Linked DNA regions of Homo sapiens. The protein of the gene in region 1 purifies or fractionates together with the protein of each later gene. This does not show direct contact. Each region holds a gene or a part of one and is shown on either strand. Other genes may lie near its edges.

Region 1 (6,168 bases):
TGCCACAACTTCCTAAAAGGTCTTCCCACTACCCAATATCTTCTCCCTCGAACTCAGGGTTTCTCAACCTCGCATTATTCCCATTTTGAACTGAATAATTCTGTGTTGTAGGAGGCTGTATGGTCCTGTGCACTGTGACACGTTAAACAGCATACCTGGTCTCTAACTACTAGATGCAGGTAGCTGCCCTTCTCCTAAAATGATGCCGAATGTCTCCTGGGAAGAAGGGGTGCCCATCTCCCCATCTTTCCTCATTCCCCATTGAGCAATCACTTAAAAACTTTTTGATAATTACCTGTGGCCTGCAGACAAATCTAAACCTCTTAACAATGGTATACTATTCACATGTTCTTCCTCCCAGGTAGCTTCAGAACCTCTTTTATTCACACCCTTACTCGTTCTATGTTCCTAAAATACCAGACTACCAGAAATTCTCTGAACAAGTCTTTGCTTTACATCTGCACTGACAGTGCAGTTCAACAGGGTTTGCTAAAGAATCACACGGATCAAAATGACAGTGTTTGCAAATCTACAGTTTATTACTGTAGGTTATGTTATAAATCTACAGTTTATAACATTATACGACTATATATGTCTATGTAAGCTCTCTGAGGTCAGAGTCAGTCTCTGGGAGGTAGTATAATAAAGTGGCTAAGAATTTAACTTGGGACTGAAAAGAGCCCCAAAAGGAAAAGAATATAAAACATTACAGCCAAAGGCTGCCTCACAGCAAGAGATCTGAAAAGGTCAGGTGTGGGCTCCTTCGGCTTCCCTTTGTTAGGTGTGTGGCCAGACATATACTCTCTCAGATCTGGAACCACCCAAGTGTGCAAAGAAAACACCCTGGAACCAAGCAACCCAAAATAGAGTCCTGATTGCATTTTTAAATATTTTGCTGGTCACATAGGCATATTCCTGCTACGCAGCTAGTCTCAACAACAGAGCTCTGGGTTGGGGGTGTGGTCTCATGAAGACCAGGAGCAAATCATCAATCTCATTGTTACCAATAAATAATGTTGACAAACTGGTACAAACTGCCCCCAAAGCCCTTGGACTCACAGTCACAAAGCTATTATAATAGCTTCATATTAAAGCTAATAATAATAGTTTTGTGACTATTAATAAATATAACTATAGTCACAAAACTATTATTATTCAGTGTATTTTCAATGCCATGCACAAATGTTAGCAATATAGCTCAGGCTAATTTCAGGCCTGCTGGAACTGTCATGAACATATCTGCCTGGGGCCCCTTCTTCTCTCCTCTGCCGCCTTGTAGAGCAACGGCTACTTATCTTGCAGACTCACCTCTAACATCAGCTCCTCAGCTAAATGTCCCCTGATGATCCTTCTGTCTCCTGCCAGCACTATACCTAGTGTGTACCTTTATTGTCACATTTAACATTTTATGACTATATATGTCTGTGTAAGCTCTCTGAGATCAAAGTCAGTCTCTGGGAGGTAGTATAATAAAGTGGTTAAGAATTTAACTTGGGACTGCGTTACTGATTTAGCTACTTCTACGTTTTATGCCCTTGGTTCTTAGCCTATCTAAACCTCAGTTTCATCAGTAAAAAAGGAGTAAGAGCTATAACAATTTCATATCGGGCTTTCCTGAGAACATACCTGAAATGCTTAACATACTGTCTACACATAACAGATGCTAATTTGTTAGCCATTGTAGTAGTATCCTTAGCACTAATCACTGAGTCTGCATACACAAAAATCCAGGAAATGTTTATTAAATTCAAACAAAGAAAATGTCGGCTTATACTTTTTATCACAATTCCTGCTATCTTCTTTTCTGTCCCCTGGTGCTAATCCATGAAGGTAAGTAAGCCTAAGGGTCATCCTTGGCCTCCCCTCCCTGACCCACTATAGCCAAATCATTACCAAGTCCTGTTGATTCTACCTACTACCTTCTCTCCAATCCTTTCACTTTTCATTTACCCCACTGCTATCACTCTACTCTAAGCCACTATCATTTCTTGTCTAGACCACCATAATAACCTCCTAATCAGCCTTCCACATCCGCTCTGCAACATCTTACCATCACTTCTCTACCTGCACAAGTTATTATTAATGCAGCTACCAAGAATATTCTCGTCATATCACTGAACTGCTTATAACCCTCTGATGGCTTCCTACACTTTCAGGAAAAACAAATCCTTAACATGGTCAGCAAGACACTATCTGGCCTGCCCCTGCTGACCCCCTTGCTCTGGCTCCTTATTCCCAACCATATTGGACCTCTCTCTATGGCCCTGAAATTCTCAGTGTTCACTACTACCACAGGCTATTCCCCCTCCTCCCTTACCAAGGTGTTTATAGCTCATCCTTTAAAGTTCAGCTTAAAATAATTTTCCAAAGGAAGTCTTCCTTCATGGATCCTACTTACTGCTCTTAAGGCACAGTTCTGATGAATGAGCAGATACCAGTTAAGAAAAGCAGGGTGAGAGGGGAATCATGAATGATGGCAGTGACCCTATCTGTTTCGACCACTTCTGTACCACTGGCACCTAGTATTCAATAGCTACTCAAATGTTAAATGCGCCTACCAACCAAAATTGAAGCTCAGTAAAGACTGTTCTAACCAACCGAATAAACCACATTCTGTTAAAGTTTCTTTTTTATATAATCCCAAATATCAGAAGGGGCCTCTCATTTATCACAGCAATTCTTTCTACAACTCCCTTGGCAAATGGCCGTTCAACCTGTAATGGAGCTCTTCCAATGACAAGGACCGTATTAACCAACAGTCCTAATATTGGTAAAACTGAAAAGCAATGAAGTTAGACATTGGCAGCACTCCAAATCCAATTAAATTGGAGGTGTGGATTAGAGAGTAGAGGGTTGACACTGGGTACTACAGAGTATAAATGATTTTCTTTAAGGGAATCTTTTAAGGAAGAAAGTTCAATAGGCCTTAAAAATGAGATGGAAAGAAATGCTAAAGGGAGCATTTCTGGAATTCATATATTTTAACACCCGGTCTTAACATCTCTCACCCAAGGTTTATTAGAGGAAAGTCAAATGCTGGGCATCAGCTACCTAGAAGCGATTTTTGAATTAGCCTAAGAACGGGGAAACACGGACAGGAAAGTGCCATCCCTCAAGTTACACCCCCAATCCTGGAGCCGCGAGTTGGGGCCCAGGGACTGCTAGGCCCCTGATACCTGGAACTCCAGGGTGCACTTGGTGCCCTGAGCGATGTCCTCGTAGAAGCACTGCTTGGCGTTGTCAGGAAGCTCGAAGGTGATCTCAGAGGCGCCGCCGGGTCCAGGCACCAGTAGCAGCAGTGCGAGCAGCCTGCACCCCCAACGGCCCGCGACGGCCGCCCAGCGCTGCGCGGACCCCGGCCGCGGCATCCCGAGAAGGCGGCGGCGGCCTCAACCGAGCTGCGAGACGCAGGGTCAGGTCTGCGCGGACTCACCGCGCGCGGCAGGCCTCAGCGCAGGCCACCCCGCAAAGATACACAGCAGAGCAGGTTCACGCCTGTGGGAGATTCGGGATCAGAGCGACCCTCCGGCTTCCTGTGAGGGGCGCAGACGGGCGGACCTGGGGAGGTAAAAGAGAAGCGGAAAAGGCCTGAGAGGGTCGGAAGTGGGGATTAGCCTTTCGGGGGGTGAAGGGGCGGAGCCTGAGACACCGGCTCCCGTGACCCGGATGCGTTCTTCTCCGGGAACACGCGTTGGAGTGCGTACGTGGAAGCCCGCGAGGCGTTGGCTCTGCCTCCGTTGCAGCCTGGGACGAGGGGCGGGGCCAGAGTCGTGGGCGGAGAGGGGCGAGACCAGGAAACGGGGCGTGGCGGCCGCCGTGGTTACAGGCGGTTGGCGAGGGTAATTACGCTCCAATCACTGGCTTTTTTTGTTGTTTTTTTTTTTTTTTTTTTGAGACAAGAGTCTCGCCCTGTCACCCAGGCTGGAGTGCAGTGGCGCGATCTGCGCTCACTGCAACCTCCGCTGGGAACTTAGCGCTGGGGAGCATCTAGGGAGTGGTAAAGGGCTCATTTTGCCCTAGGGTGCTAATCGTTGGTGGTAGAGCGCTTTGCAATTTGCGGAGTTTTCTCATAAGTAATAATAAATATTTGGGGGAAGCAGCTGGGCAAGGAGCGCGAATTCTAAGAGCAGACTGCAGGAGTGCTTAATCCCTGCTTTGCCACGTACTGGCTGTGTGACGTCCGGCCACTTGCTTAAATTCTCTGCCTCAGTGTGTATCTGTAGAATGGAGATAATAGCACCTACCATAGAGAATTATTACAAAGTACCAATATTTGGAAAAAGTACCTAGAAGTGGTTGGTACATAGCAAGCACTAGATGAACTTTTGTTAAATTAAACGTCACAGTGCAATCAATACATTACATACCACAAGATAGGCAAAAATTTTAAGTGTAACAATAACAGATATTGGTCGACTTATAGAGCCACAAAACCTCTTATACACTGCTAGTGAAAAAGTAAATTGGTTAATCAAGTTGGAAAACAATGTGCCATTATCTAATAAAGTAGAATATATGTATACACACACAGAACACACACACCTATATACAGTGTGTGTGTGTGTGTGTGTATATATGTATATATATATATATATATATAGCCTGGAATATGTAGCCACAGCCTGGAAATTCCATTTTACATATATTTATGGAGTATATGCTTTAGAGCAGTGGTTCTCAAGTGTTGCTCTGAAGTCCCCAGAAGCCTCCTGAAACCCTTTCAGAGGGTATGTAATGATCTGTATGAAGCTGGATTTTCATTATATATTTCAACCAAAACAGCATAACAGATTGAATATCAAAGGAAATGAGCACCCAGCTTCTTCCTTAAATCTAGATATGAAAGATTTACAAAAATAAGGTCACTCTTCTTGCTAAATTTTTATTTCGAAAATATTTTTATTAAAAGATGTGTTATTTATGTAAATGTGTGCAGTGAGTTGAATTGTGTCCCCCTAAAAAATACATGTCCAAGTTTCAACCCCTCCACCCCTGTGAATATGATTTTATTTGGAAATAGGGCTTTTGCAGATGTAATTAAGTTAAGGCCCTCAAGATGAGGTCATCCTGGGACTTAGGGTGGGCCCTAAATCTAAAGACTGTTATCCTTATGGTATGGTTTGGCTGTGTCTCCACCCAAATATCATCTTGAATTGTAGTTCCCATAATCCCCACATGTCACGGAAGGGACCCGGTGGGAGGTAATTGAATCATGGAGGCAGATTTTTCCCATGCTGTTCTGGTGATAGTGAATAAGTCTCATGAGATCTGATGGTTTTATTGTAGTTCCCATAATCCCCATGTGTCATGGGAGGGACCTGGTGGGAGGTAACTGAATCATGGGGGCGGGTTCTTCCCATTCATTTATGTTTCCCATAAAGCAGTATTGTGTTTATAATGCATTATTTGTGTTTATAAACATATAATGCACGTATAATGCATTATTCATGTTTATAAACATTGTTCATGTTTTATAACAGGTAGTTAGCTACATGAGATCTCATGGTTTTATAAAGGGCAGTTCCCCTGAACACGCTCTCTTGCCTGCTGCCATGTAAGACGTGCTTTTGCTGTGCCTTCACCCTCCACCATGATTGTGAGGCCTCCCCAGCCATGTGGAACTATCAATTCATTTAACTTATTCTTTGTAAATTACCCTGTCTTGGGTATTTCTTCATAGCAGTATGAACATGGACTAACACACCTTATAAGAGGAGGGAAGATTTGAGATGCACAGACACAAAGATACAGGGGCAGGGTTGGGGGAGGGGAATGGCATACTGAAGACAAAGATACAGATTGGAATGAATGATATGTTCACAAGTCAAGGAACACCAAGGATTGCCCATCGCTATGGGAAACTAGGAGAATGGCTTGGAACACCTTCTCCTTCAGAGCTTCCAGAAGGTATCAACCTTGGCAATACCTTACTTGCAGACTTCTTGACTCTCCAGCTCTGAGAGAAAAAATTTCTGTTGTTTCAAGCCATCACATTTGTAGTAATTTGTGACGGGATCCTCAGGAAACTAATGCAATATGTAATGGGTTTATTGTTTATTTTAAATGAATTATCAAATATTTTTAAATATCTCAGATCTCAATAACCTTTATTGGACATTTTTTAATTTGAAAATTTTTATTTAATCTTTAATTTTTACGATTCTGAGG
Region 2 (3,500 bases), on another chromosome or scaffold:
CAGCGCCAGCCCAGCACTCAGGAGACGCAGCCCATTCCTGGCCCAGGTTGGGCCTTGTCCAGCCCAGGCAGCACTGTGTATTCTCCCCAACCCCTTGGGCCTGCCTGGCCCTTTGGCCCAGCCCTGAAGCCTTTTCCCTGCTTTGGCTCCCCCATGCCCCCACCCCAGGCATGTATCCCGCTCTGGGCTGCTTGTTGCATTCCTTCTGTGGCCTGGGCCTGGAGGTGGGTACCGTCCATTGGCAGCTTTGGCTTCTGCCTGCTGTCAGCCCTCGGGAGAGGCCAGTGACAGTGTGGGCCACGTGTCCATGCAGAAGGCCTGTGTGTCAGCCCTGCGGCCGGGGGAGGCGGGGCAGTAGCCCTTGTGTCTCTGAAGCAGTCTTCTCTCTCATGAAGCCTTCCCTGACCACCCAGGCAAGACACCCTCAGTGTTCCCTTGCCAGCGACCCTTTTCCCCAGCACCAGTTCACTACCGCATGAGGCCCGAGCTCCGGGTGGTCAGCCAGGTCTGCGGCATTGGGGCCCAGCTTAATGGAGGTGTTGGTAGTGCTTGTAAGATGGAGGAGGAGGTTCCTGTCCTTGCAGAGGGAGGCCAAGCACCCAACTCCAGGCTCGTCCCAAGAGCCTTATTCCATGGGGGCTCAGTCCTGGGAAGTTGCTTTGGAGCCAAGTGTCCAAGGCTTAGAGGGCGGCAGGAAGCAGAAGAGGCAGGCGGGGCACAAGCCCTGGGAAGCACTCCAGGCCCAGCCCCCCTTGCGACACAGCTGGACACTGCTCCTGCAGAGAAAGAGTAGACAACTCCCCCTCTTCAGCCTTGGCCACCAGTAGGGACTGGTTCCTTGGGGCTCAGCCGTGGGCAGGCCTCCCTGGGCAGGCCTGTATTCTGGGGCTGTCTCTGGGGTGTGGTTGGCTGTGGGAGCCTTGGGTCCCTCACTGGCTCGGCTCAGCAGGAGGGATGTGAGCAGATCAGCAGCTGGTCTTTCTGCTCCTGAAGACCCAGGCGTCTGGCAGGGTTGGTTGGTCTGGCCGGTTGGTTCCCTCCATGTGGGACCGTCTGGTGTGATGGGGACAGGGAGGGACTTCCCCTTACCCAGCACTGGTGTTGGCTGAGGTGGGTGCTGAGTCTCAGAGCTTGGCATGGAGACCAGACAGGGCTGGGTCTGCAAGCCTGAGGCTGCCGCCCTGAGCTCGGGCTGGGACGTGCCCAGAGGTGTTGGGAGGATCTGGGGTGAGTACCCTGTGGCCAGGACTAAAGGGGCTGCACCCTCCTGTCCATCCCTCGCAGATCTTGAGCAATGCCCGGTTATTTCTGGAGAACCTCATCAAGTGAGTGCCTTTGCCAGGTCCCACCCCTGCCCCACCCATGGCCTGTCCAGGCCCCGCCCCACAGCCCCACCTGCCACCCACTCAGACCCCCATCCCTCCACCCCCAGGTATGGCATCCTGGTGGACCCCATCCAGGTGGTTTCTCTGTTCCTGAAGGATCCCTATAGCTGGCCCGCCCCATGCCTGGTTATTGGTGAGCTGGGCTCTGAGGAGGGCCTCGGGTGGGGATCAGGCTGACGTGGCCCTAAACCTGCCCCTTGGTGCTTCTGTCCACAGCGGCCAATGTCTTTGCTGTGGCTGCATTCCAGGTTGAGAAGCGCCTGGCGGTGGTAAGCAGTGCCCCTCACCTCCGTGTGTGCTCACCCTGCTGTGTGCGCTCCTGGGAGGAGCTGCTCCCCAGGCCTGGCAGCCCTCTCCCAGGCAATGGGAGCCCTGGTTGAGTGCTCTGCTCCCCACTCCAGGGTGCCCTGACGGAGCAGGCGGGACTGCTGCTGCACGTGGCCAACCTGGCCACCATTCTGTGTTTCCCAGCGGCTGTGGTCTTACTGGTTGAGTCTATCACTCCAGGTGCGCCCCCATCCCACCCTGCCCATCTGTCTCGGGCCAGCCACGGGCATGGCCTCCGGCTGTGGCGCTGTGGAGGCCTGAGTCCACCTCTCCTGCAGTGGGCTCCCTGCTGGCGCTGATGGCGCACACCATCCTCTTCCTCAAGCTCTTCTCCTACCGCGACGTCAACTCATGGTGCCGCAGGGCCAGGGCCAAGGCTGGTGAGGGGCTGCCAGGGGCTGGGGCTGCCTGCTGGGGGGCTGGGCAGCAGCAGGGCCCCACCAGCCCCCTCCCACTCTGCTGTGCTCGTAGCCTCTGCAGGGAAGAAGGCCAGCAGTGCTGCTGCCCCGCACACCGTGAGCTACCCGGACAATCTGACCTACCGCGGTGAGGACCTCTGTGGGCCTGAGGTGCGGGGGACAGGCTGGGCCTGTTCTGGTACCAACCCCCCATTCCCATTCCAGATCTCTACTACTTCCTCTTCGCCCCCACCTTGTGCTACGAGCTCAACTTTCCCCGCTCTCCCCGCATCCGGAAGCGCTTTCTGCTGCGACGGATCCTTGAGATGGTGAGGTTGGGGGCTGGGGGCAGCCACTGGAGGCTAGGGGGCCTTCTGGCTAGCCAGGGCCTCAGCTGGCTGCTCTCTGTTTCCCCCCCAGCTGTTCTTCACCCAGCTCCAGGTGGGGCTGATCCAGCAGGTAAGTGGGGTAGGGCAGGGTTGGGTGTAGCTGGGCATGGCTGGGAGCTGACGTGGTGCCCTCCTTTGCAGTGGATGGTCCCCACCATCCAGAACTCCATGAAGCCCTTCAAGGTGAGTGGCTCAGGTGCTCTTGCAGCTGGGGTGGCTGGGGAGTGACCAGGAGCATGGCTAGCTGAAGGGCTTGTTTCTGCAGGACATGGACTACTCACGCATCATCGAGCGCCTCCTGAAGCTGGCGGTGAGTGCGGACAGGTGGCGCATGCACAGGACAGGAGGGGACAGTGGCATGTGGGGGAAGGTTCTAGAACTTGGTGCCCACCCCCACCTCCCTGCCAGGTCCCCAATCACCTCATCTGGCTCATCTTCTTCTACTGGCTCTTCCACTCCTGCCTGAATGCCGTGGCTGAGCTCATGCAGTTTGGAGACCGGGAGTTCTACCGGGACTGGTGGTGAGTGTCCCTGGGGTGTCCCTGGGGGCTGGGATGGGCCATGGTGTGCTCTGATCCCCCTGTGGTCTCTTGGCCCCCAGGAACTCCGAGTCTGTCACCTACTTCTGGCAGAACTGGAACATCCCTGTGCACAAGTGGTGCATCAGGTAGGTGGGGTGTGTGTGTGTGTGATGTGGAACATGGCTGTGAACCTGAACCGCTTTCCATGCCCCCTCCTCTGCAGACACTTCTACAAGCCCATGCTTCGACGGGGCAGCAGCAAGTGGATGGCCAGGACAGGGGTGTTCCTGGCCTCGGCCTTCTTCCACGAGGTCAGTGCTCTGGGGGGCATCTTGCCTCATCCCTGGGCAGGGGTATGCCCACAGCAGGGACGGCTGACACCCCACTCCCTGGCATCCTCTCTCCCTCCCATCTCAGTACCTGGTGAGCGTCCCTCTGCGAATGTTCCGCCTCTGGGCGTTCACGGGCATGATGGCTCAG

The links.
Region 2: the proteins of TMED7 (region 1) and DGAT1 purify together in Homo sapiens (affinity purification with mass spectrometry; one large-scale study listed by BioGRID and IntAct). This does not show direct contact.

The regions. Positions count from the first base shown.
Region 1 is NC_000005.10:115,622,425-115,628,592, forward strand, and holds the start of TMED7 (transmembrane emp24 domain-containing protein 7 precursor), read right to left. Parts: upstream 3,613-6,168; 5' UTR 3,369-3,612; coding exon 3,177-3,368; intron 1-3,176. Other genes in the region: TMED7-TICAM2 (TRAM adaptor with GOLD domain isoform 1 precursor), read right to left, coding at 3,177-3,368. UniProt on the Homo sapiens protein: Potential role in vesicular protein trafficking, mainly in the early secretory pathway. Appears to play a role in the biosynthesis of secreted cargo including processing and post-translational modifications.
Region 2 is NC_000008.11:144,316,853-144,320,352, reverse strand, and holds part of DGAT1 (diacylglycerol O-acyltransferase 1), read left to right. Parts: intron 1-1,284; coding exon 1,285-1,325; intron 1,326-1,432; coding exon 1,433-1,518; intron 1,519-1,601; coding exon 1,602-1,654; intron 1,655-1,786; coding exon 1,787-1,892; intron 1,893-1,990; coding exon 1,991-2,092; intron 2,093-2,183; coding exon 2,184-2,258; intron 2,259-2,335; coding exon 2,336-2,439; intron 2,440-2,530; coding exon 2,531-2,569; intron 2,570-2,640; coding exon 2,641-2,682; intron 2,683-2,764; coding exon 2,765-2,809; intron 2,810-2,907; coding exon 2,908-3,020; intron 3,021-3,037; exon of another isoform or gene 3,038-3,100; coding exon 3,101-3,166; intron 3,167-3,243; coding exon 3,244-3,331; intron 3,332-3,437; coding exon 3,438-3,500. UniProt on the Homo sapiens protein: Catalyzes the terminal and only committed step in triacylglycerol synthesis by using diacylglycerol and fatty acyl CoA as substrates. Highly expressed in epithelial cells of the small intestine and its activity is essential for the absorption of dietary fats.